5 linked regions of the Homo sapiens genome follow. The protein of the gene in region 5 purifies or fractionates together with the protein of the main gene of each other region. This does not show direct contact. Each region holds a gene or a part of one and is shown on either strand. Other genes may lie near its edges. The genes, in order: SUDS3, KDM5A, SAP130, MNT and MXD1.

The links.
Region 1: the proteins of MXD1 (region 5) and SUDS3 purify together in Homo sapiens (affinity purification with mass spectrometry; 3 studies listed by BioGRID and IntAct, with this or other methods). This does not show direct contact.
Region 2: the proteins of MXD1 (region 5) and KDM5A purify together in Homo sapiens (affinity purification with western blotting, with the first as the bait; one study listed by BioGRID). This does not show direct contact.
Region 3: the proteins of MXD1 (region 5) and SAP130 purify together in Homo sapiens (affinity purification with mass spectrometry; 3 studies listed by BioGRID and IntAct, with this or other methods). This does not show direct contact.
Region 4: the proteins of MXD1 (region 5) and MNT purify together in Homo sapiens (affinity purification with mass spectrometry, with the first as the bait; one large-scale study listed by BioGRID). This does not show direct contact.

Annotation. Positions count from the first base shown.
Region 1 is NC_000012.12:118,400,084-118,404,699, reverse strand, and holds part of SUDS3 (sin3 histone deacetylase corepressor complex component SDS3), read right to left. Parts: intron 4,042-4,616; coding exon 3,946-4,041; intron 2,942-3,945; coding exon 2,880-2,941; intron 2,718-2,879; coding exon 2,696-2,717; intron 1,289-2,695; coding exon 1,183-1,288; intron 1-1,182.
Region 2 is NC_000012.12:382,190-386,805, forward strand, and holds part of KDM5A (lysine-specific demethylase 5A), read right to left. Parts: intron 3,786-4,616; coding exon 3,708-3,785; intron 1,965-3,707; coding exon 1,842-1,964; intron 1-1,841. UniProt on the Homo sapiens protein: Histone demethylase that specifically demethylates 'Lys-4' of histone H3, thereby playing a central role in histone code. Does not demethylate histone H3 'Lys-9', H3 'Lys-27', H3 'Lys-36', H3 'Lys-79' or H4 'Lys-20'.
Region 3 is NC_000002.12:127,940,787-127,945,402, forward strand, and holds the end of SAP130 (histone deacetylase complex subunit SAP130), read right to left. Parts: intron 1,752-4,616; coding exon 1,638-1,751; intron 1,379-1,637; coding exon 1,220-1,378; 3' UTR 436-1,219; downstream 1-435. UniProt on the Homo sapiens protein: Acts as a transcriptional repressor. May function in the assembly and/or enzymatic activity of the mSin3A corepressor complex or in mediating interactions between the complex and other regulatory complexes.
Region 4 is NC_000017.11:2,394,134-2,398,749, forward strand, and holds part of MNT (max-binding protein MNT), read right to left. Parts: coding exon of another isoform or gene 4,559-4,616; intron 1,322-4,558; coding exon 742-1,321; intron 214-741; coding exon 172-213; intron 22-171; coding exon 1-21. UniProt on the Homo sapiens protein: Binds DNA as a heterodimer with MAX and represses transcription. Binds to the canonical E box sequence 5'-CACGTG-3' and, with higher affinity, to 5'-CACGCG-3'.
Region 5 is NC_000002.12:69,912,866-69,918,179, reverse strand, and holds the start of MXD1 (max dimerization protein 1), read right to left. Parts: upstream 3,072-5,314; 5' UTR 2,850-3,071; coding exon 2,777-2,849; intron 2,060-2,776; coding exon 1,960-2,059; intron 1-1,959. UniProt on the Homo sapiens protein: Component of a transcriptional repressor complex together with MAX. In complex with MAX binds to the core DNA sequence 5'-CAC[GA]TG-3'. Antagonizes MYC transcriptional activity by competing with MYC for MAX binding.

The sequences.
Region 1 (4,616 bases), on a different chromosome or scaffold from region 5:
CAGAAAGGCAAAGCAAACCGTATGTCCACTATGCCTTAGAATGAATAGACTATGCCTGCATATGGATAAAGAATAAAAAGAAATATATCAGAATGAAAAGACCTGAGAAATGATGGCAGTATCCATTTCATATCTAGCAGAAAGCGTAATACAGAACAGAAGAAATGTTTGTTGAATGAACAAAAGTATGAGCTTTTAAGGTTCTTTCATACTGTTTTGCCATTACCTTTCCAATGAAAAATGCTAGGCGGTCTGAACGTTTCAAAGAGTCTTCAATGTAAACCAGGAATGCAGGACACAGTGGCTCATGCCTGTAATCCCAGCACTTTGGGAGGCCAAGGCAGTAATATCATGTGAGGTCAGGAGTTCGAGACCAACCTGGCCAACATGGCGAAACCTCGTGTCTACTAAAAATACAAAAACTAGCTGGGCATGGTGGCGGGTGCCTGCAATCCCAGCTACTCGGGAGGCTGAGGCAGGAGAATCGCTTGAACCTGGAAGGCGGAGGTTGCAGTGAGCCGAGATTACGCCACTGCACTCCAGCCTGGCGACAGAGCAAGACTCCGTCTCAAAAAACAAAAAACAAACTAGGAATGTTTTAGGATACAGTTCCCCCAAGCAAGTGTCCTTGACCACTTTTGCAGCTGGATCATGTAAGAAAAAAGGGTATGTGTCATCAAAAAACATCTAATAACATCTTAGAAATTCACAGTGTACATTAGCATATCGCAGGACCCAAAGGGTACTACAAGGGAGCAACCCACTTATCTTAATTAACATGATCATCCCCCAAACTGATTTGACCACAAAATCCTTTAATCCGAAGAGCACCTATTAACCTTAGCACACAGGAGCAGAGGTAAGAGGGGTCAGAGGGGGGACATACACCCCAGCCCCAGTTGGCAGGGGTACCACACAAGATACCAGCCTGCAAATTCTAGTACAGAGACACCAGAATGGAGAAGGAAGGGGAGCAGAACATGGTTTTGGGAAACGCTGCTTTCAAAGATCCACCGGAAGTATTGATTAAATGACTGCTAATACATTTTTTAATGGGTTTCTACTTTTAGTACTATGTAAGTTTAGCAGCAGCCGTGATCTGAAATAACTACAATAGCCCCAGCCCTCTTTCCAAGTGGTTCATATGAGACTCTTACTAGTCCAGGTTTTCCCATAACATACCATCTTTTGTCATAGTACAGTTTGCCATCTTCTATCCGAGCTTCGAACCTCTGGGCTGGAGATTCCGCGGGTGTTGCAGGCAAGTGCTCAGGAGAGGATGGAGATGCTGGAGGAAACCAATACTTACGTGACTAAGAATGTAACAAACACATGCGAGTCTACCAGTTAACATGCTTTAATTGAAACACTATCAGAATGTGGTAATAATCATCACTGAGCCCTTACAGTGATAATGCATGGGATTTCAGCAAAACTCTTGTATATTCCATCTAAACTTGATCATCAAAGCAACCCTGGGAAGTAGGCAAGGCAGATTAGCCTCTCAAATGGAAGAGACACCTGGGTTTCAGGAAGATTAAGGTCAAATGTGCAAATACATAAGGTCACTTAGAGTAGGACTAAAGCCCTGGTGATCAAAGGGCAAGTATTATGAAAATCTCTTAAAAATGCAATCGTTTTCAGCAGGGTGCGGTGGCGCACACCTGTGATTCCAGCATTTTGGGAGGCTGAGGCAGGTGAATCACGAGGTCAACAGATGAGACCATCCTGGCCAACATGGTGAAACCCCATCTCTAGTAAAAATACAAAAGTTAGCTGGGTGTGGTGGCACATGCCTGTTGTCCTAGCTACTTGGGAAGCTGAGACAGGAGAATCACTTGAACCTGGGAGTCGGAGGTTGCACTGAGCCGAGTTCACGCCACTGCACTCCAGCCTGGCGACAGAGCAAGACTCCATAATCCAAAAAAAAAAAAAAGGAATCACTTAAAGAACTACTAACTTTACACTCACACAACTCCCTCACCCCTCCCCATCGTGCCTCAGAAGGTCAGGATGTCTGTGGACCGCAGTGGCCCCCAGGAAGATATTACCTAGAAAAAGAAGACTCTTGTTTTCTTCCACAAGACTCAGTAAGTAGAGGGATGTGTGAGTAATCGAGTAATCGAGTAATCATGGTGCTTTAAACAAAAAAAAGATGTCACCAATTCAGAATTCTAGTTGGCAGCTAGCACTGATGATCTCAAGTGCTGTTCCGGAAGGAACAACTATGAATACTGAGCTGGTTGGTCTCTTCTATGAACTGCGAGTCAGAGCAGCCTTGGAATGCCTTACCAGAGTCAGGCCACGAAAAGCCACGGGAGCAGAACTGCCTAGGACTTGGCTTTAGAAAGCCAGTAATACTTAAAAATCCTTCTGGTTTCATTTTCAAAAATGGATGTGTACTTAAATCTTATGCCTGATGCCTACACAGAAGGAAATCAATCAATCAATCAAATGTCTCTTTTATGATAAATCCTAAGAAAAAAATAAAAACAACAAAGCAGGGGTTATGAAAAAAAAAGAAATCAGGGAGGGGTATAGTTAAGGTCCCCTTCAGTTTTCATGATGACTACTCTTAGGCAAATGATGAACATTTCATTTTTGAAAATTGCAACCATTTCCTGACAGGTATTCACACCCTTTTCCAACAACATGATAAAAAGGTTGCACAAATGCCAACACATCATGCACTCACCTGGTCTCTTGGGTGACTTAAGCTGTAGGAAGAACAACAACAAAAAATCTTAGAGAAAATCATTTCAGGTGCAACTTCAGGTGTCAAAGGTATCATAATGATTAACAAGTAACATGTTAACAAACAAAATCAGAAAACCACAAAAGCCTGAGTTTTCAAATAAATCAAAAAAGTCAAACCGTACCTTATTTAATGTTCTCAGATCCTCCATGATCTGTTCATCTGTTAACAAATAGTTTAGCTGGGGTGTTGAGAGTTAAAGGACTGTATGTGAAAAGTACAGTTTCCAGGCAAAGAGTAATCAACACAATGGTACCAGTATTTTAGAATTTACAAAGTATGATTTTGTTAAATGATGTTTCTACAGTAACAGTTTGCTTCTTAGAAATTTATGATTCTCCTACTAAATGTCATGGTACTTCAATACATAAAAGAATTCACATCCCCCACTGCTAGGATGAGAAGGTGGAATGAGCTTCATTAGGCATCTACAATAACACAGCAAAGGAAACAGTAAAATAAGAATTTCATCATGAATGTATAAAGCGCTTTTGTTCCAAAGATCTAAAGACTTCCACACACACTCACCCAAGGTAAGGCCAATCTTCCCTCAGCAACTTAACTCCTGTTGTGAAGGAGAAGCAACCTGAAGTTATGCCCTTTCCTGATGGTACACAAATGACTAAGCCATTTTGGGCAGAGAGCTATTCACCATCTCCTCGAAAGGAACAGAAACAACGCTTCTCCATCTTTCCTGTTTCCGTTACCATTTTTATGATTAAAGGGCTGCTTTATGTCTGACTGAAATCTCATTTGCTTTAATTTAAAAACAGGTTGCAATCCACTACATTATGGACATAGATAACAGAGGTACATAAAGGTAGATATTACTGCCTTCATTTTACAGTTGGAAGGTGGAAAATTACAGGTGAAAAAATTAAGGCACATCAAGTTTTCAGATGCCCCTGAATCTTGATGTTAGCATTAAAACCAGGCTGAACTTTGCATGCAAAGCACCTTTCCAAATCACAACTCTATACATCTCTCCCACCAAAAGCAGTAGCAAATGAGGACTACCATGATAAAATGAGCAACCCCTGACCTGTGGACAAACATTTAACACACGCTTTCCAGTTAAATGTTACTATTTTCTGTAGGACAACGGCCATGTGTACCCTAGCAAACGGATAAACATAGGATTCCACAGTCTTAAAAAAGAAAGGCGGTTAAGGCTTGATGTAAATGGATATCTGGAGCAGGTTTCCTCCTCTTGTCTGGGATGGGGACGGGATCATTTGGTCGCCTCCGCAACTTTCTGGTCATGATAGGTTTCACCTCCATAGAATCTGTGGCAAGAATGGAATGGGTAAATCTATCCAACTCCCACTTGAAGTCAGTAAGAATTTCTATAGTATAAGAATATCTGCCCCCCAGCCACCCAATCAGAACTGTTTTACTGGGGGTGTTTGTTCTACACATGGTCGTAGCCAGACACCCCATTAGATTTTAGAAAGCGTTTATACTTGTAAGATTCAGACCAGCTGCCCTAAGTGCACACCCCTCTCAGAAATGCAGCCCTACCGTCAAGCATTACAGCCACTGTGGGCATCTCTCCAGCACCCTCAAAACCTAGGGGATATTCCTCCTCTCCCTCAAATTAAGAAGCCCAGAGTCACAGGCTCTCGGGATAGGAAGGAACCTGAAGGTCATCTCAGCTGACTAATTTCTGCAGCTCCCAAAGAGGGTGGGTGTGCTGAAGCCCATTGGTATGAAAGGCTCTTTTAGAGGCCACTGGCCTCAGTGCCAACATTTTTATACGAAGTTTTCATTTACAGACTCGGATTTTTTTTCTCTATAACCTTTTGTAGCTACTTGACTATCAAGATGACACAATGAGGGCTCACAATAAAAGCCTCTTTCC
Region 2 (4,616 bases), on a different chromosome or scaffold from region 5:
GGGAGGCTGAGGCGGGTGGATCATCTGAGGTCAGGAGTTCGAGTCCAGCCTAACCAACATGGAGAAACCCTGTCTCTACTAACAATACAAAATTAGCCAGGTGTGGTGGCAGGCACCTGTAATCCCAGGTATTTGGGAGGCCAAGGCAGGAGAATCACTTGAACCCGGGAGGCTGAGGCAGAAGAATCACTTGAACCCGGGAGGTGGAGGCTGCAGTGAGCCGAGATGGCACCACTGCACTCCAGCCTGGGCAACAAGGGCGTGACTCCATTTCAAAAAAAAAAAAAAGTGAAATCTTCTAAAAGTAACTGCAATTTAAATAAGAATAAATTTTTATTTCAAAATAGTATATAAATTATAAGATATGAAAGGCCACAAGAAGAAGTTGTTTTACAAAATTCCCAGATAATTAAGCAATAATAAATTTGTATTATTGTAGTAACAAAACATATTTTAGCCGGGCGCGGTGGCTCACGCCTGTAATCTATAATCCCAGCACTTTGGGAGATCAAGGTGAGCGGATCACGAGGTCAGAAGTTCGAGACCAGCCTGACTAAGATAGTGAAACCCCATCTCTACTAAAAAATACAAAATTAGCCTGGTGTGTTGGCACATGCCTGTAATCCCAGCTACTCGGGAGGCTGAGGAAGGAGAATTGCTTGACCCTGGGAGGCAGAGGTTGCAGTGAGCCAAGATCAGGCCATTGCACTCCAGCCTGGACACAAGAGCAAAACTCCATCTCAAAAAAAAGAGAAAAAAACATATCTCAAGGTTATTATAATCTCAGCTTGCAGGTCAGTTAGTTTTTTTTTTTCACATTAGGGAATATAATGTTAAAAAATTAACACAATTTCAGCAAAAACTTGTCTAAACTCTTCACCCTTAAGTTTCTGAGCTGTTTGGTCATCCTACTGAATAATGATGGCCTCAGTCAGCCATTAACACTACATACACGTATTAACAAAACTAATATATACCACACATAAGAATGCTGAGAAACATGAGTTTCTTTAATATGCCAAATTTTCTCTTTTTTTTTTTTGAGACAGGGTCTAACTCCTGTGGCCAAGGCTGAGGTGCAGTGGCGCAATCACAGCTCACTGCAGCCTTGACTTTCCGGACTCATGTGATCCTCCCACCTTAGCCTCCTGAGTGGTTGAGACTACAGGTGTGCACCACCATGCCCAGTTAGCTTTTCTGTATTTTTAGTAGACATAGGGTTTCACCATGTTGCCTGGGCTAGTCTCTAACTCCTAGGCTCAAGTGATCCTCCCACCTCAACCTCCTAAAGTGCTGGGATTACAGGCATGAGCCACCGTGCCTGGCCCAAATTTTCAATTAAGTAACAAAAAAAAAGATGACAAGCTCAACACAGAACATTGTACACTCAGCACAAGATAACATTAGCAGGCTAGAGTAATTTATTTTGCATATTGTATATCACAGAGCCTGATAAATATTAATATTTAGTAATTAAATATTGATCTCAACAAATATAAAATAAGTTTTAAAGATAACTTTGAGAACTGTCATTTCCATTTATTCAAATGTGCATTTCATTGTCCTTTTTTTTTTTGAGACCGAGTTTTGCTCTTGTTGCCCAGGCTGTAGTACAATGGCGCGATCTCAGCTCACCACAACCTCCGCCTCCTGGGTTCAAGCAATTCTCCTGCCTCAACCTCCCGAGTAGCTGGGATTACAGGCATGCGCCACCATACCCAGCTAGTGCATTTCATTGTCAAACAAATCCTCTATTGGAAGCAATGTTTCCTACCAAATCTATTTGATATTCCTAAATTCACAAGCCTGTGCTCTAATTTCTAAACCAGTATGAGCCTCACCTTGCTCAAAGCATACAGATCCAGGATTTTTCTCTCTACCACAGGGATCTTCAGAGTAGATCCTTGAAGTTCCCAAAATTTTGCTAGTTGATCCAAGAAATCCAATCTCACTCTGGTCATTGCCTAAGATTATTAAAATACAGAAGAACTAAGTTATGATTGAAATGAATAAGAATAACAGAGCAGGGGTCCCCAAACCCCAGGATGTGGACCAGTACCCATCAGCGGCCTGTTAGGAACCCAGCCACACAGCAGGAGGTGAGCAGCGGCAGTGGGCAACCAACCGGGCAAGCATTACCACAAACCCTATTGTGAACTGCGTGTGAGGGATTTAGGTTGTGAGCACCTTTTGAGAATCTAAGTAATGCTTGATGATCTGAGGTGGAACAGTTTCATCCCAAAACCATCCTCCATACCCCCATCCATCCATGGATAAACTGTCTTCCATGAAACCAGTCCTTGGTGCCAAAAAGGTTTGGGACAGCTGTAATAGAGGTACTCATTTCTCTAAAGAAATTCAAAGACTTTTTTTCATTATTGCTTATTTCAACCCTGTAAAACTAGCCAATAGTAAAACTAGCCAATAATAAAGAGGCAAAAGACTTCTAATAAACTATATTTATTCAGGCAAAAAAGTTACTCTGATTTATGTAAAAAGTTGTCATATTAGCAACCAAAACAATTTTTGTAAGTTGGTTTAACTCTATGCTGATCAGAAAATTCAGTAGATCGGATTCTCTTCAGTCTCTAACGTTCTGTCATTTCATCCATATGTAACATGCACACTTTAGGTGCATCAACTCTATACCTCACTGATACTAATATGCTTTGTCAAGTATCTAATTACAAGAGACTAAAAAGAAAAAATATGCATTGCGGCCAGGCGCGGTAGCTCACGCCTGTAATCCCAGCACTTTGGGAGGCCAAGGCGGGCAGATCACCTGAGGTCAGGAGTTCCAGACCAGCCTGGCCAACACGGCAAAACTCCGTCTCTACTAAAAATACAAAAATTAGCTGGGCATGGTCGCTGTAATCCCAGCCACTAGGGAGGCTAAGGCAGGAGAATCGCTTGAACCCGGGAGGTAGAGGTTGCAGTGAGCCGAGATCGCACCACTGCACTCCAGCCTGGGTGACAGAGCAAGACTCTCTGGAAAAAAAAAAAAAAAAAAAGTATGTATTAAACTCTCAGAAATGTTTTGGGGAGAAAAGAAAAAAAACTTCAGAATGACATAATAAACCTTTGCTATCAATAATTTTCCTTCTGTACTCTAAAAGTTTTCATATCACAATGAAGAACCTTCTGAAAACCCATAAACAGAAAAAACAGCAAAACGTACACTTCCATTTAGAAAATTTAAGATAAATTAGTAATACTTAAAGTAATTAAAAAATAATACTTAAAGTAATTAAAAAGTAATACTTAAAATCTTAATAAATCAGATTAACACTCCTGGCAAAGTTCCATTAAAACCAAAACCAAAACCAAACCAAAACAAAACAAACTCTGAAAACTAGGGTTTTAAAATAGGATTTAAAAATCCATTTTCCAAGAACCGAGGGAGAAAGAAATCTTCCAAGATTAACAAAAATTTTAGTAGAGTAAGAAACACTAGAGAAAGTAGAATTTAAGAATTCTAAGTCTCTGAAGCTAAGCATTGAACATTTCTCAGTTAAATGGAAAAACCATAACAACTTTGCACAGTTTTTAAAAAATCATACTCTTCCTCCAAACATCAAGTAACTATTCCATTCAATACCAATTAACACAAACTCTAGGCTGTGGTACATGAGCTTCTCAAAGTTCTCTACCTACAGCCCTAATATAAAGAATGAATCAGGAAGCAGAAATAGTGACAAAACACTTACCTCAAGTTCATTCAGGCGCTGGACTCTTGGAGTGAAACGAAAGCTTTTTACTTCACAGGCAAATGGAGGCTGCCAGTCCTAAATAGAAAGATTTTTTTAAAAAAACACAGTGGTATGTAAACAAGGAATGCATTAATTATTCCCTTAAAGGGGGGTTTTGCCACAAATCATGGTGCTAATAGACTAACTTACAAGTCTTCTTTATTATAGAGACAGAATGAGCAATTCTTTTCGATAAAATAATTTTAATACAGGTTGAGTATCCCTCATCTGAAATGCTTGGAACCAGAAGTGTTTTGGATTTCAGATTTTTCCATATTTTGGAATATCTGCATATACATAATGAGATATCTTGGAGAAAGAACCAAGCCTAAATACAAAATTCTTTTGTTTCATATAAAGTTATACATAGGCTAAGGTAATTTTATGCAATATTTTTAATAATCTGGTGCATAACGCTTGTGTATACTGGACCGTCAGAAAAGAAAGGTGTCAGTAGCTCAGCCACCAGTGTGGACAATTTGTGGTTGTCTGGCATCACCATCATTCCTGACTGTGAATTTACATGCTACCAATAAACAATCATTTCCTTACACTTATTTCCACTTAAGTAGTTAACAGAAAAAATATACCATACCATTAATACAATGAAAAAAATAATCTGTTCAAGCTGGGTGCAGTAGCTCATACCTGTAATCCCAGCACATTGGGAGACTGAGGCAGGAGGATCGCTTGAGCCCAGGAGCTTAAGACCAGCCCAGGCAACAGAGCGAGACCCTATCTCTATAAAAGAAAAAGAAAAAGAATAATTCAGATTTTGGATGATTTCGGATTTGGAATTTTTAAAGTAGGGATGGATGCTCAACCTGTATTGCTCAGAGAAGCAATCCTCTTCAAACCAGTCCCACC
Region 3 (4,616 bases), about 58 Mb from region 5:
AAGCCTCTGAGAAAAATCTTTCCTGGTCTGTTACATGGAGGCCAGATGGAGACGGTTGGTCTTGTGCCCAAAGGAAGCCGATCTGAGCTGCCTTTCCACTCAGGTTAGTTCAGACGAAGAGCAATGTGTGGAGAGGATCCACCCGCCCGAAAGCTCCGCCCCCAGTACTGCAGCCTTAATAGTCCTGTAATCGGACCAATTTTTATCCGCACTGGGCCACAATACAGGCTCGTATTTAAGGGAGCCAAGATCCAACAGGTTTCACCACTGTAGCATATTTAGACTACCCTCTAAGAGGAACTCTATGCGAACAGCATAACTTCAACAAACAAAGTAGGCTCCCAACAATGTGTGAAAAACTGAAGCAGGGTAAACATTTCAGTGAGGGTCAGTATGGCACTGATTCACTTTACAAAAAGATGCAAACTGCGCAAGTACAAAAACCTCTTTGAGTCCTTTATTAACGTCTGGAGATGTGTGGTACATACAATTAACAGCATCACACCAGCTACAGAAGTACAGATAACCAAGAATGTACTTCAGAACAAGGATCTGAGAGCAACTTATGGTGTTGCCTGCTCTGAACCTCCACAAAAACCCAGTTCTGACACACGCAAGACAGACGATATAACAATTTCACTTGGGAATGGTTTTTTTTAAAAAATGACAAGAACTAATAGTTCAAACCCTTTAGAGTGTGAGATGTGGCAGCTCGCTTGGTGCCGTGGCACTGCTGTAAAAGGCCAACATGGGCATTTGAAGGTCAGGCAGAAGAACCGAATGGGGTGGGTGGAAGAGGTTTTATTTTCAGTGTAGAGAGATAACAGATGGTCCGAGTGGATACTTTCAGTCCAGGCTCAGTATGGGGCCTGCAGGAATCCACTAGATAAATACAGTCTATAAACCGGAAGGCTGAAAAACACCAGCCAGCCATCCTTGTCATTGCTTCCAACTGGTGGACACTGATGCATCCGGAGTCACTTATGACACAGATCAGGTTTAACAGGGGTGCACCCGAACGCAAGAAGGCAGCTCACTATGTCCAGTCAGCTCTGATCCTTTCACGCCCTTGGATGTCATGGGTTCCTCTGCTTTCACACGGGAACTAAGGAACACTTCCTTTATTTCAATGTTCCACTTTGGAAAAAACCAAAACCCTCCCCCCACCCCCACCATCATTCTTCATAAATTTGCTTCCAATCTCCTGATTGTTCTGGGTCTAGACTTTTTCCTTTCGCTTCAATTTGGACACTTTTTTGACAGTCCCGTTCTTGTTAAGCAGCTTCAGGACACGGTCTTTATGATCTAAAACCTTAAGCATGGAGTCTCTGGCTTCACTGATTTGATCCATCACAAGTTTACACCTCTGCATATTTCCCTGAAACAGAAGACATTGCATCATCAATCAGTGACCATGAGGATAGTACAGCTTTTAAAAAACTGCTTGCCTTTGGGCAGAGGCCATGTTGAGGCTTCCACAACAGAGAAAATGTCTTTTTGTTTCTCAGGAGTGCAGGCTGAAGCACGTATGTTTTTACTGAAGATATGAGGGAGACGGGGGGAAACGGGAGAAGTAGGGCTTTACAGAAAGCAACTTCATAAAGTAGATGATCAGAAGGGAAGGGGCGCACTCAAACCTGTATCAGTTCGTTTATTCGGTGGAGATCATCATCTGTTGCTGCTTTTTTCTTTGGGATAATCCCTTCCTGCAGGTTAGTAAGTCTTTCATAGACATCATGTTCTAGATTCGTCTGCAACACACAAAAGGGAGGGTATCATAAGCTCGGAAATATTTTTCTATGTCAACCCCAGGCAAATGAACCCACCTTCAATCACCTTTGTAAACTGTCTAAGAGTTGTTTGGGTGACAACGTCCTTTCTCCTAAGGACTAAGATACTAAGGTTTAAAAACAGTAAAGGGGCTGGGCGCGGTGGCTCACGCCTATAATCCCAGCACTTTGGGAGGTCGAGGCGGGTGGATCACCTGAGGTCCAGAGTTTGAGACCAGCCTGACCAACAAGGTGAAACGCCATCTCTATTAAAAATACAAAATTAGCTGGGCGTGGTGGCGCATGCCTGCAATCCCAGTTACTCGGGAGGCTGAGGCAGGAGAATCGCTTGAACCCGGGAGGCAGAGGTTGCAGTGAGCTGAGATCCCGCCATTGCACTCCAGCCTGGGCAACAAGAGCGAAATTCCATCTAAAAAATAAATAAATAAATAAATAAATAAAATAAAAACAGTAAAGGAAACTGATCAACAAAGATTTACATTATAATTTGCCATAGTTCAGAGCCTATCTTCAAGGATAACTTTTGAATACTGCCTTGAATCCACAATTCTTCTGAAACACAAGTCTCCAAGTTTCATAGAAGTGATTTCTGCTAAGTCAGAAGTAGCCAAGGCACTACATTTTTTTAGATACTGACAACAGACAATGTTCTTCAGGTCACTGCTACTGAAGAGGAAAAACTTTATGAGGTTGTTGCCTCCTCTTCACCTGCTGGTGAAGGAGGGATTCTTGCCCTAGGGTTATAGAAATGGCCAAACATATAAGATCCAACACTGGATGGATAAGATTAACAGCAGTTTATGAGTCACAAATACAGTCATGCTCTGCTTAATGACAGGGATACGTTCTGAGAAATGTCTTTAGGAAATTTTATTGTTGTGTGACCATCACAGAATGTACTTACACAAACCTAGATGTTATGAACTACCACATATTTAGACTATATGATAGAGCCTACTGCTCCTAGGCTACAAACATGTACACCATGTTACTGCAAGGAATAGTGCGGGAAACTGAAACACAGTGTTAAGTATTTGTGTATCTAAACGTATCTATACATAGAAAAGGTACAGCAAAAATACGGCATGACAGATTAAAAATGGTAAAGAGCACTTACATGAATGCAGTCTACCAGGACTGTTAAGTTGCTCTGTGTGAGTCAGTGGGTGAGCAGGGAGTGAATGTGAAGGTCTAAGACATCACTGTACACTACTGTAGGCTTTATAAGCACTGTGCCCTTAGGCTACACTAAATCTATTAAAAATATTCTTCTTTCTTCAATAACAAATTAACCGTAGCATACTCTTTTTACTTTATAAACTTTTAAATTGTTTTAAACTTTTTGACTCCTTTGCAATAAAACTTAGCTTAAAACACATATTGTTGGACAAATGTGGATACTGTTGGGCGGTTACAAAAAATATTTTCTTTCTTTGTATCTTTATTCTATAAACTTTGTTTTCTTCCTTTTTTTTGAGAGTGTCTTACTCTGTTATCCAGGATGGAGTGCAGTGGTGCGATCATGGCTAAGGGCAGCCTTGGTCTTCCGGGCTCAAGAGTTCCTCCCACCTCAGCTTCCCAGGTAGCTGGGACTAGGGGGTGTGCACCACTACACCCGGCTAATTAAAACACTTTTTTTTGTAGAGACAGGGTCCCACTATGTTGTCCAGGTGGGCCTCAAACTCCTGGGCCCAAGCAATCCTCTTGCCCCAGCCTTCCAAAGTACTGGGATCACAGGCCTGAGCCACTGAACCTGGCCCCTTATGTTCTATTAAAAAAAAATTTTAACTTTTTATACTTGTTAAAAATTAAGACACAGTACAGCCTGGGCAACATAGTGAGACCCTGTCTCTACAATTTTTTTTTTCCCCGAGAGGGAGTTTTGCTCTTTCGCCCAGGCTTGAGTGCAGTGGCATGATCTCTGCTCACTGCAACCTCCACCTTCTGGTTTCAAGCAATTCTCCTACCTCAGCCTCCCGAGTAGCTGGCATTACAGGCGCCTGCCACCACGCCCAGCTTATTTTTGTATTTTTAGTAGAGACAGGGGTTTCACCATGTTGGCCATGGTCTCGAACTCCTGACCTCGTGATCTGTCCACCTCGGCCTCCCAAAGTGCTGGGATTACAGATGTGAGCCACCGTGCCTGGCCTCTACAAAAAATTTTAAAAAATCAGCTGTGTGCAGTGGCTCACACCTGCAGTCCCAGCTGTTTGGGGGTGCTGAGGTGAGAGGATTAACTTAAGCCCAGCAGGTTGATCATGGCTGTAGTAAGCCATGGTCGTGCCACTGCACTCCAACCTGGGTAACAGAGCAAGACCTTGTCTCAAAAAAAAAAAAAAAAAAAAAAAGAACAGGAGAGAGGGAGAGGTATGCCCCGGTCTCTGAATGATGATGTGTGTGACTGGCTTATCTGAGTAACATTGGAAATTGGAATACTGGAAGCTGGCAGGGAACTGGAGCCTACTACTCAGCAAGGAGCAGGAATTGTGTGCCTGGTCCCTGTGGTATGAAGGGTTGTTTGCCTAGGAGACTTCATCTGAGGGAGCAGAGTTGGGAGGAGGGACTCTCGGTTAGGCCGTTTGAGGCTCCCCCTATTTCAGATGTCACAATATCACATAACACTGAATCTTAAATTTAGGTCTTACACCACAGTTGTTCCATATATTTTGGATCTGGATACCAGAACTTAGATATATTTCAATTTTAATCACATGTAACTGACACAGTGTGATATTACATAGCACACATAAAAATTCTATCATAACCCATGTTAGCTGGGAATGCTTCAGAGTTACTTTTAAAAAGTTCTATGAACTCAGCTATCTG
Region 4 (4,616 bases), on a different chromosome or scaffold from region 5:
CACTCTTTCAGATGGGCCCTCCTGAAGAGAGGGGCGAGCGCCGGTCAGCGGTGCCTGGGGCGGGGCTGGGACGGGGGGAGGCAGGACCGGGGAAGCTGGGGCCGAGGGCCGCCGGGGCCCGGGTCGCGCGCGCACGCACGCACGCACACACACACACACACACACACACACCTGTTCTTCTCCAATTTGTTGTGGACTTCTCTGGTTCCGATCCTGAAACCCAGACAGATAGGAGGCTCAGGGAGGAGGACTCGATTAGACGGCCTTCCTGACCAGCGCCGCCACCCGCAAAATTGCCACAGGCTGTTTGTCCCCAACACTGTCTTAAAGCAGACTGGGAGACGTTCGCCCTGTGCCATGCTGCGCCCACCCCCTGGAGGACACATCTGTGCTCATAATCACAACTCCTGTCACCCTCCGTCCCACCAGGAGGGAGACAGGAGGACTCCTGGGACTCAGAGGCAGCCGGTTGACCCCAGCCCTCACCCAAGAGGCCCATACTCTGTCCAGAGGCCTGGGAATGCCATAAGCCTCAGCCTTGGACTGCGTTAGGAAACACAGAAGCCTGGGAACGGGGGGCAATGGGACATTCCTTCCCAGGATAGACATGGGCACAGTGATGACGTGTTCAAATACAGGGGGCACTTCTAAGCTGGGGAGGGCACCTTGTCTTGCACACAGCCCGGGGGATGGGCACCTCTCCTATCCCCCACCAGCCCGACCCCGCCACACCCCACTCACCCCCCGGGCCTCTTCTTCTGTTCACTGGATTTGACTTCTTCAGCTGGTGCCAACTTCAGGGTCCCCAGCGTGGGTGGGGGCGGCTGCTGGGGGGCCAGCTGAGGCTGGACTCCAGGGTGTGGCGCTATGGTCAGGACAGGCGTGGGGAGGGGCTGCAAAGGCTTGGGGCTGCCATTGGGTGGAATGGTGGCCTTCGAGTCCGGCAGTAGGGGAGCAGGGGTGGGCACCTGCGGCCTGCTGGGCAGGGGGGCAGGCTCCTTAATGCTGAGTCCGGGGGCGCCAACCAGGGCCGGCTGACGAGGCGCCAGGGGCAGAGGCTGGGCTGCCGCGGGCAAGGGTGGGGGTGGGGGTAGAGGCTGAGGGGAGTTGGTCACCACAGGGATAGGGATGACAGTCAGTGGGGCAGGGGTGGCAAGTGGTGGTGGGGGTGCCGGCGGGGGAGCCGGTGGAGACAGAGGCAGGGGTGGCGCCTCCATGCGGGGTTCCTCCACAGGAAGGGTATGTGCCAGCCTGGCCAGGCTATTGGCCTTCTTCTGTTCCTGCTCTCGCTCCTGCTCCAAGCGAAGCCGCTCCTGCTCCTCTACACAGAGAGAACACAAGGGGGGGAGGGTCTCAGCGGGGCCCCAGAACTCCAGCCCTAACTCGTCCTCTGACCCTAGCCCAGTCAGTACTCAGTGACACCCCTGCTCAGCGAGAGACACCACAAATAGCCTACCAGCCCAGCCAGGCACGGGGGAAAGTGCCGGGGGCACAGCAGTGAACAAATCAAGCAGACCTGTTCCCCGCCACCAGGGAATAGTAGGACAGTCACGGGGGCTGACAGTCACGGGGGCTGACAGTCCGGGCTGCGGGCAGGACAGGCGGCCCTGGAAAGGTGGAGCAGAGCTGTCAGAGGGTGCTGCAGGCCACCTGCCAGCCTGCAGGGTGAGGAGGAAGGCGGGTGAGGGCAGCGAGGGTCAGGGGACCACAGGGCCGAGGTGGGAGAGGCGGGCAGAGGCCCAGCCACCCAAGACTTCACACCAGAGGGGGGGGTGTGCTGACAGATCCCAGCTTCCGTGGAAGGCCTTTAACAATGTTTACCAAGCACTTTCTAGAGGGCAGGCAGTGCCTGCATGGCACAGATGAAGTCAGTGAAGCTCAGGGAGCAAAGTGATTCGCTGCAGGTCCCACAGCAAGCCTCCTGACCCCTGGAGGACGCTTGCCGTGCTCACAAGGAAGTGCTGACAGTCCCTGGATCCTCACAAGAGCCCCACGTCACATCATGGGCAGGACAGGGACATCACCCTCATTTCACACATGTGGAAACAGCCCAGCACTCTTGACTCCGAGGCTAGGTCCCAATGCCTGTTTTCCTCAGGGACCATTCAACAAACACACTTCGTCCCTCTCTGACCCTTCTCGTGTTATAACTCATTTTCCCCAAATCCCCAACATCCCCACCACCAGCAGCAGCGCCAGCATGTCCTGTCCTTCAGGCCTAAAGCATCCTCTGACATCCTCAGTGACACCCCGCTCAGCCTGAGACAATACAAATACCCAACCACTCCAGCCAGGCACCGGGGAAAGTGCACCTGCCTGGTTCTGGGTGAGAGAGGGCAGTTGAGGAGGAGGAGGTACAGCAGCGACCATTTCTCCCAAACAAGAAGGGGCTGGGCTCTTCAATGGGGGCTGAGCAGGGCAGTGCACCCCACCACCCGCTCAGCATCCCTGCTGAAAGCCCAGCAGGAAGGCAAGGCCCACTCAGGAGCTGGCTGCCAACAGGGGAAGGGGAGGCACCTCCATCTCCCGCTTGCCTCGTCCTCTCCCAGGCGCCACCATTCTGGTTCCCTGGCTACGGGGCTGGCCCAGGCCCTTGGAGTCTGCAGACTCCAGGCCAGGGAGCCGCCGGGACAAGCAGCCCTCTCCTCTGACCCCGGACGCCCGCCCCGCTCCGCTGACGAACGCAGCAGACAGCCCGGGCTCGTGGACACGCCCCAAACACCCGGGCAAGGGGTGGCGTGGGGGACTGGAGTCGGCTAAGGCCCCCTGGGGAGGAGAGCACCCACCTCCCACACTCTTACTGGCTCAGGCGCCCCAGAAAACCTGAGGCCTCAGGCCCTTTGGCCAATCAACAACTGGAGTGTGAGCCAGGCCTGCTCCCAGCCCCGCCCTCCTGCAGAGGGAAGAGGCCGAGGAGGAAGCGGAGGGGGAAGCGTCCTGGGAGGGGAAGCCTCAGTGGTTTCCCAGCAGCCGGAGTTCAGGGGCTGGGCCAGCCAGCGGGCCTCTTCCAGATCTCCCTAGCCCTTCGGGAAGGGGCGATGCCAGGCCGGTGCAGGCCTGCTCCAGTGCGGGGAGGCCTTAGGTTACGCCCGGGAGAAAACCAGCCCTGCGCTCCCGCTTCCCACAGACCGCAGTGGCCAAGCAGCCTGCTGAGTTCCAGTGACAGGGCCCTTCTCAGTCGGGCACAGCCTCAGTTGTCCCCAGCCCCTTCCCCTACCCCAAGACAAGGCTCTGGATCCCAGGGCCTAACACAGACCCTGCCTCCATTCCTTTGGCTGACACAGACCTAACTTTTCATTGGCCTTGAGACATGGACTCCACTCTTTATAGGCAGAGGAACAATCAGGGCCCTCCCTGAGTCACAAGGACATGTGGGACCCTAGAGTGCAAGCCAACCCCCATTCCCCATATTTTAAAGCAATCCCAAAGCTCACCTGGGAGGTAGCAACCTCCTTCTCACCTGCCCTCTCTCACCCAGAACCACGCCGGTACACCTCACAGGTGCCAGGAAGGACCCAGTTACACCTGGAGCAGCATGAAAAAGCTCCACAGGTGGTGAGGAAGAGGAGCTGCCCCTGGCCAGATCCAGCCCACCGGAGCTTCCTGTCCCTTCCCACCCAGCGGCAACCCTCTCCCTGTGCACTGGAGAACCACCAAACTGGTGGTGGCTGGTGCTCCCTCAGGAGCACCCTGCGCTTAGGCTCTTTAAAAGAATGTTCTGCACATCCACCAGACAGGGTGCGCCCCCTCACATGCTTCCCTGGGCTCCACCCAGAGGCTGCCCCCAAAGAATTTAGCATGCCCCTCTGCAGTGACCCAGGGGCCAAGGCTTCCGCCCACAGTCAAGAGCAGAGCCAGCGTGCTCCCTTCAACCTTCCCAAGTGACTGTGGCCCAGGTGCTCTGCAGGCACAGGGCTAGGGGTGGAGGAGTCCACACTGGTGGGCCCCAGCAGCCACAGGAATTCTCCCATCTGCACGCTAAACAGGAGGCTTGGTGCCTAAGGCAGGCCCAGGGTAAGCCTTGGAGAGTTGGTCAGGAGCCTCTGGACACTCCAACCAACTCCCTCGAAACAAGGCAGAAGAGTTGCATCTGAGCCACCTCTATGAACACTAGAAATGACCAGGCCAGGCCTTCCGTCTGGGCACCAGGATAGCTCTGCCCTTTCCCCTCTCTCTCACAGGCACACACATCTGCGGGGTCCTCATGTGAGCAAACTGGCTGGTCTAGGTCAGAAACCCATGCTTGCGGTTGAAAGGGAGAAAGGACAAGAGGATCCCTGTCCAGAGCTGGTCCTAGGTCCCGGGAAAGCGTTCTGGTCAGCAGGTTCACCTGCCATGCCCTTCCTTCCATTCGTCCTGCCCCAGCTCAGAGGACAGAACCTCAAGAGGGAGAAGAAAATGAATTCTGGAGGAGAAACTGCTGGGATCGGTTCCGGACACCCGTACATGAGTTTTTGAGTAGATCTAGCTTTCCGCACCCACTCATCTACAAAGACCTCTGACCGGCACACAGAAGTCGTGACCAGGCCGCTGAACTCGGCCTAAACACAGTGCGTACTCGAACTGCAACGTGTTGATGGCGGCAGCAGGTGACTTAATCTCTCCGAACCTTGTGC
Region 5 (5,314 bases):
CAGTTCAAAATTCTGACCATACATGGCTGAGGATATAAAGCCGATTCAAACCATGGGGTCAAGCTGCTTTCTCCATTATGATTGCTTGTTCCTCAGAAAAGGAGCTATTCCAAATGAGTCATGAAGGAAATGATCACACTGAAAGAAAACTGCCTGCTCTTGCCTCACACGTTTGGCTGGTGCTACCTCTAGGTTTAATCATGGTCTCTCAGAAATCCTTACACCACTGAATATATTACACTAACTCACTATCAGTCAGGTGTATGGACAACTGTGATAATCCCGTCTCTAACCATGGAAAGCAAACCAACCCATTAACAGAAGGATTTGTAGCCTTTATTTTTTTTTTTTTGGCATAGTACTGATTATTAAAGAGAAGATACTAGAAAGAATCCATTTCTTGGCTTAAGATTCTTAACTACTATTATTTTTCTTTCCTAATCACCTTTTGGGACCAAGCCACTTCAACATCTCATTTTCTTATCCCCACTAGTGAACATCCCCTACAACCTTCCTGTGAAACTAAGGAAAAAAACAAAGTGTTAAGGTATTAAGCCTCAATAAGTAACTTGGACAATTCCTCTCAAATCATTAGTGGACAATAATAAAAGCAAAAATGGATGATGCTTTTCCAGAAAAATTAACTGAAAGGCCTCAAAATTCTTCTAAACAAAATTAAAAAAATATTGTAACAAAATGCAACACAGCTTAATTGGTTTTACACCATTGCATATTACAAGTCAGTATTAACATCTTTCTTAAAGTGCCTTCATACCCATGCACAAAACTACTGGCTACCACCTTCAGGTAATGCTAAGGTGGGAGGACAAGCAAAACCTACCAGGTAATTACCAGGTTGATCCTTCAAGTGCCATTTTTATTCAAGGGCATGGCACAAGTAATGCTGCTCACATCCTGTGGTTCCACTAACGATACTAAAGAGGTAAACCAAGTACAGAAGACGCAGCAAGAACAAGTGATTTTTAGGTTTAAGTGGGAAATTCCTGGTCTGTATTAAGCCACAGAGGATATCCAAATAGATACTTGCAAGGAGTTATTCATGAGGGTGAGGGAGGGATAAGGATTCTAAACTAGTGACGAAAAGGTCAATGCTTTTAATTTACTGGCAGGAAAGGTATAGTTGAAGGGATCTAATAGAACAAATTTCCTAGCCAACTATATTTTAAGGGCAAAGAAGGGGGGAAACGGGCAGCAACATTGATGGACTATTTGCATGTACCAGAAACTATGCATAGGACTTTAATATGTGATTTAACTGACCATGAACCAAATCTCCAGTGAGATTCACAGCTTTTAAGAACTACGGTATAAGATAATCGATAAGGCTAACATGGAAAAGTTGTAGCATATTAATATTTTGGTATTATATATTCCTCTATCACTAAAGAGGTAGGTTTTAACCTCAATCATTCCTCTTTGCCATTACAAATAGAGATGACAAATTAGAGTATCAAACAAACCACTGTATTTAATTTACATGTCAAGTATGAGATCCTATCACTTATGCCAAGTCAGGTACTTTAATGTGTTTATAAAATCATTACTATGAAAAGTAAAAGAAATGGATAATGTCCAGCATTTTGACTTATAGAAAACTTGCCCTGAATCTGCAACTTCTGAAGGGAAAATACTGTCACCATTGCTAATCTCACTTGAAGCTTCCACAGATTTTTTTGTTCCAAAAGGGAAGAAAAGTGAAATTAAATTTTGAATAAAGTTCATAAAGAAATGTAAAACATTTCTATTTTTCTTTTCAGTTCCCTCAACCCAAACAGAAACAGCTTCCTGCAATGGCTTAAGTCCATGTGTACATTACTGAATCATGACGGCCACAATGTAATTTTATAGGGTTATAATCACAACAGAAAACTTACATTCAGCAGTTTGTGTCACCTACAATATAATCTAAAAGACAGAAAGAAGTATTTACCAAATTACCTGCTACTGCTGTTATTCTTTTTGGATTTGTTCCTCCGTTTTAAGGCATCTCTGTCCTTGTTATTGTATGGTAACATGGAGGCATAACCATGTTCAGCTTCTAGAAAACAGGAGGATCCAGTTAATGAATGGGCCCAGAATATTTAATGCTCTCTCCTCTCTACAGTATTTCCTTTTTCCTTTATTTATCTTTAAAAGAATATTGTGGAAATAATTAAATGGAGTAAGGTGGAATTCTGAGAACAATGATTTAAAAAAAAATTGTGTGAATATCGTCAATTCGGAGCAGGTGTAAGGAGGATTCCAGCTGCTCATTGTTGAGAAAGACACAGTAGTGGCTAGGCTCACGCAGCCTGGGTTTCCCACTGGCTACATCCAGCAGGTTGGTGCGGGTTAAGTGGAACCAGCTCAGGCGAAGGTGCGGGGCAAGCACCGTGAGCCGGGGACCGGGAGGCGCTGCTCCTCTGCCCAGGAGACTGGGGCGCCGGGCCCACCTGGGGGCCGGCCGGGACCAGCCCGGGTGAGGTAAACCAGGGAGGCTATCGGAGGGGGCCCCGGCCACCCACTCGTGAAGGGCTGGGGAAGGGGCGGCGTTCGGGACCCCGGCGGGCGGCAGCCCCTTCTCCACCCCATTCATTGCTTTGGGGCAGCGGCGGCTTCCCTTCGGACCGCGCGTGGGGAGAGCCAGAGGGGTTGGGAGCGCTCGCGGTCTCCCCGCCTCCAACCACCCCCGGAGCGGCTGGGCGCCCGGACCTGAGGCCGGCCCCACAGGACCCCCGGCCTCGTTTCGAGTGGACCCCTCCCCGTCCCCGTGCACCTCTCTCCCGCCGCTCCAGATAGTCGGCCGCCTCCAGCAGCATCTGGATGTTCATCCGAACCGCCGCCGCCATTCTGCACCGGGGGCCGGAGCCACGGGACCAACCCCCACTGCCCACGGGCTCGCTGCCGCCGCCGGACCGCTGTGGAGCCCGCTATGGAGCCCGCTGTGGAGCCCGCTGTGGACCCCGCGGAGCAGGGCTGAGGGAGCCTCTCTGGCAACCACGCTCGACAAGAGAGGGAGGGGGCCAGTGAGCTGGGCACCGCCGACACAGTGACAGAACCCGGAGCAGAGCAGCAGCCGCCACCGCCGCGGAGTGTTTATCCCCGACTCACCATCTCCCCGCCCCCAGCCCCTTCTCTTGACAGGCCAGCTTCGGCCGCGTTCCTCATTGGGCCCCCCAAAGAATGCCCCGCCCCTACACTTGTGCGATTGGGAGAGGGCTTCAGGGCTCCACCCCGCAAAGTCCGCTCCTCTCGCTGGTTGGTCACACTTGACAAGGCCCGGGCTCCACCCCCTCTTTCCAACTGGTGACAGGATTCGCAACTCCGCCTCGTGCTCCTTCCTTGTTTCCCATTGGTTCTATACCAACAACCCGGGCCCCCTTTTGCTTTGTTAGTATTGGCCAAGAGCTGCAGAAGGCAAGCACCTCGCCGGTCTCCCATTGGTGAAGCCTTCGGAAACCTCCCAGCTACGATGATGTCACCTTTCTCCAGGCCAGGCGAGCCCTAAGTGGCTGATGGTCAGCAGCCTGGCTGCTCCTCACCGGGTCTGGCATTGGCTGGGAGGGCCGGTCCGGCGCTGGGCGGCGCTGATTCACCAGCCGCTGCGGAGCTCTGCTCCACCCGGCCTTGCCTCGGACCTGTTGCCAAGACCTGTCCCCGGGGAAAACTTCCGGGGACCTGCCAGGCGTCCATCGAATGGAAGGCTGGCACCTCGTGTCGCCTGGGCGCTCTGCCCCGCTTGGGTTCGGGGCCGGAGCCCTCGGTCTGGTGGCCGCGGCCCTGGAGGTTCTGGGCTTCGCGGAACTCGGGCTGGCGAGGGCCCAGCCTCGAATCCTCCCGAAGAGCGGTGCAGGCTAGTGGCCGGTGAGCCGGGAGCTAGGGCAGGCGCCACGTGGCTGCTGCGGGGCTTGAGAAGAAAAGCCGGCCGTTGTTAAATGCTCGCCGCTCGGCGTTTTTTCTGCCCTCAAGAAAGAGCTGGAATCGGGCTGCAGTATACAGCATTGAGCTCATGCGCCTTTTCCGCACCCCCCTCCACCCCCGGGAAGTGATGGAATAATTAATTACTTTCACGCGAGCGGCTTTTTAAAGCTCAGAGACTTCCTGAACCTACAGAATGGCATTAAACCCTAAGATTCTTTGCTTAAATCTCTTTTGGGGTTTTCCCCTCCCTTTTAATTCTAGATGAAAACACTCACAAGATTATTGTTTTTGTTTGTTTGTTTTGAAAGGGAGTTTTGCTCTTGTCGCCCAGGCTGGAGTGCAATGGCGCGATCTCGGCTCACTGCAACCTCCTTCTCCCGGGTTCAAGCGATTCTCCTGCCTCAACCTTCTGAGTAGCTGGGATTACAGGTGCCCACCACCACGCCCGGCTAATTTTTGTATTTTTAGTAGAGACGGGGTTTCACCATGTTGGCCAGGCTGGTCTCGAACTCTTGACCTCAGGTGATCCACCCACCTCAGCCTCCCAAAGTGCTGGGATTACAGGCGTGAGCCACCGCACCCGGCCAAGAATACTCTTTAAGACGTCTGCAAATTGTGTGTTTCCGCATGGGGTGGTACCAATATAAATGCTTAATAGAATGTTACGTATACAGAACTAAAAAGGTTAAAGATCGGTCCCTAAACCTATTAAAATTTTTGAAATGAAAGCTATCTGGCAAACCAAGCTACACTGCCAATGTACTGACAGACATCTCCAATTTTAAAAGTAGAAATAAAGTTCTTGGTAGGTTGAGTCCCCAAAATACAAATGAGTAAAGCATGAACATATTTCTTTTTTTAAAAGTTTATTATTGTTGCCAATATATAATAGCTTACTATGTGTAGGTATCCTACCTACATTATCTCTAATCCTCAATATAACCCCATGAGGTAGGTTGTGTTAATTACATTTTGCACGTGAAGAAACTGAGGCCCAGGGAGGCTAAATGATTTTCCCTGTCATGCATTCAGCTGCAGACATGGAAACTGAACCTATGTATGTCTCACCCAGAGCCCAAATTACCAATCCTCCTGTTGGTAGTTGTATAAAGACAAGGTGGTTTAAACAGATTTCCAGACTGAGTCACAAAACACTGACAACTCAAGTACTGAAGAAAAAGAAAGACAAAGGTGTAAATGTAATTATGGTGGGAAATATTAAACATGTATTTTTTAATGTCCACAAACCCACTAAAATTAAATCAACTCAATAAATAGAATAAACATGTAGTAAATCATGCCTGACATATAGGCATATTCTGGTTTCAGTGGTTAACTGGATCTAAAAACTGATTCTTTATGAAAATACTAATGAAATACACATACTGAAGGT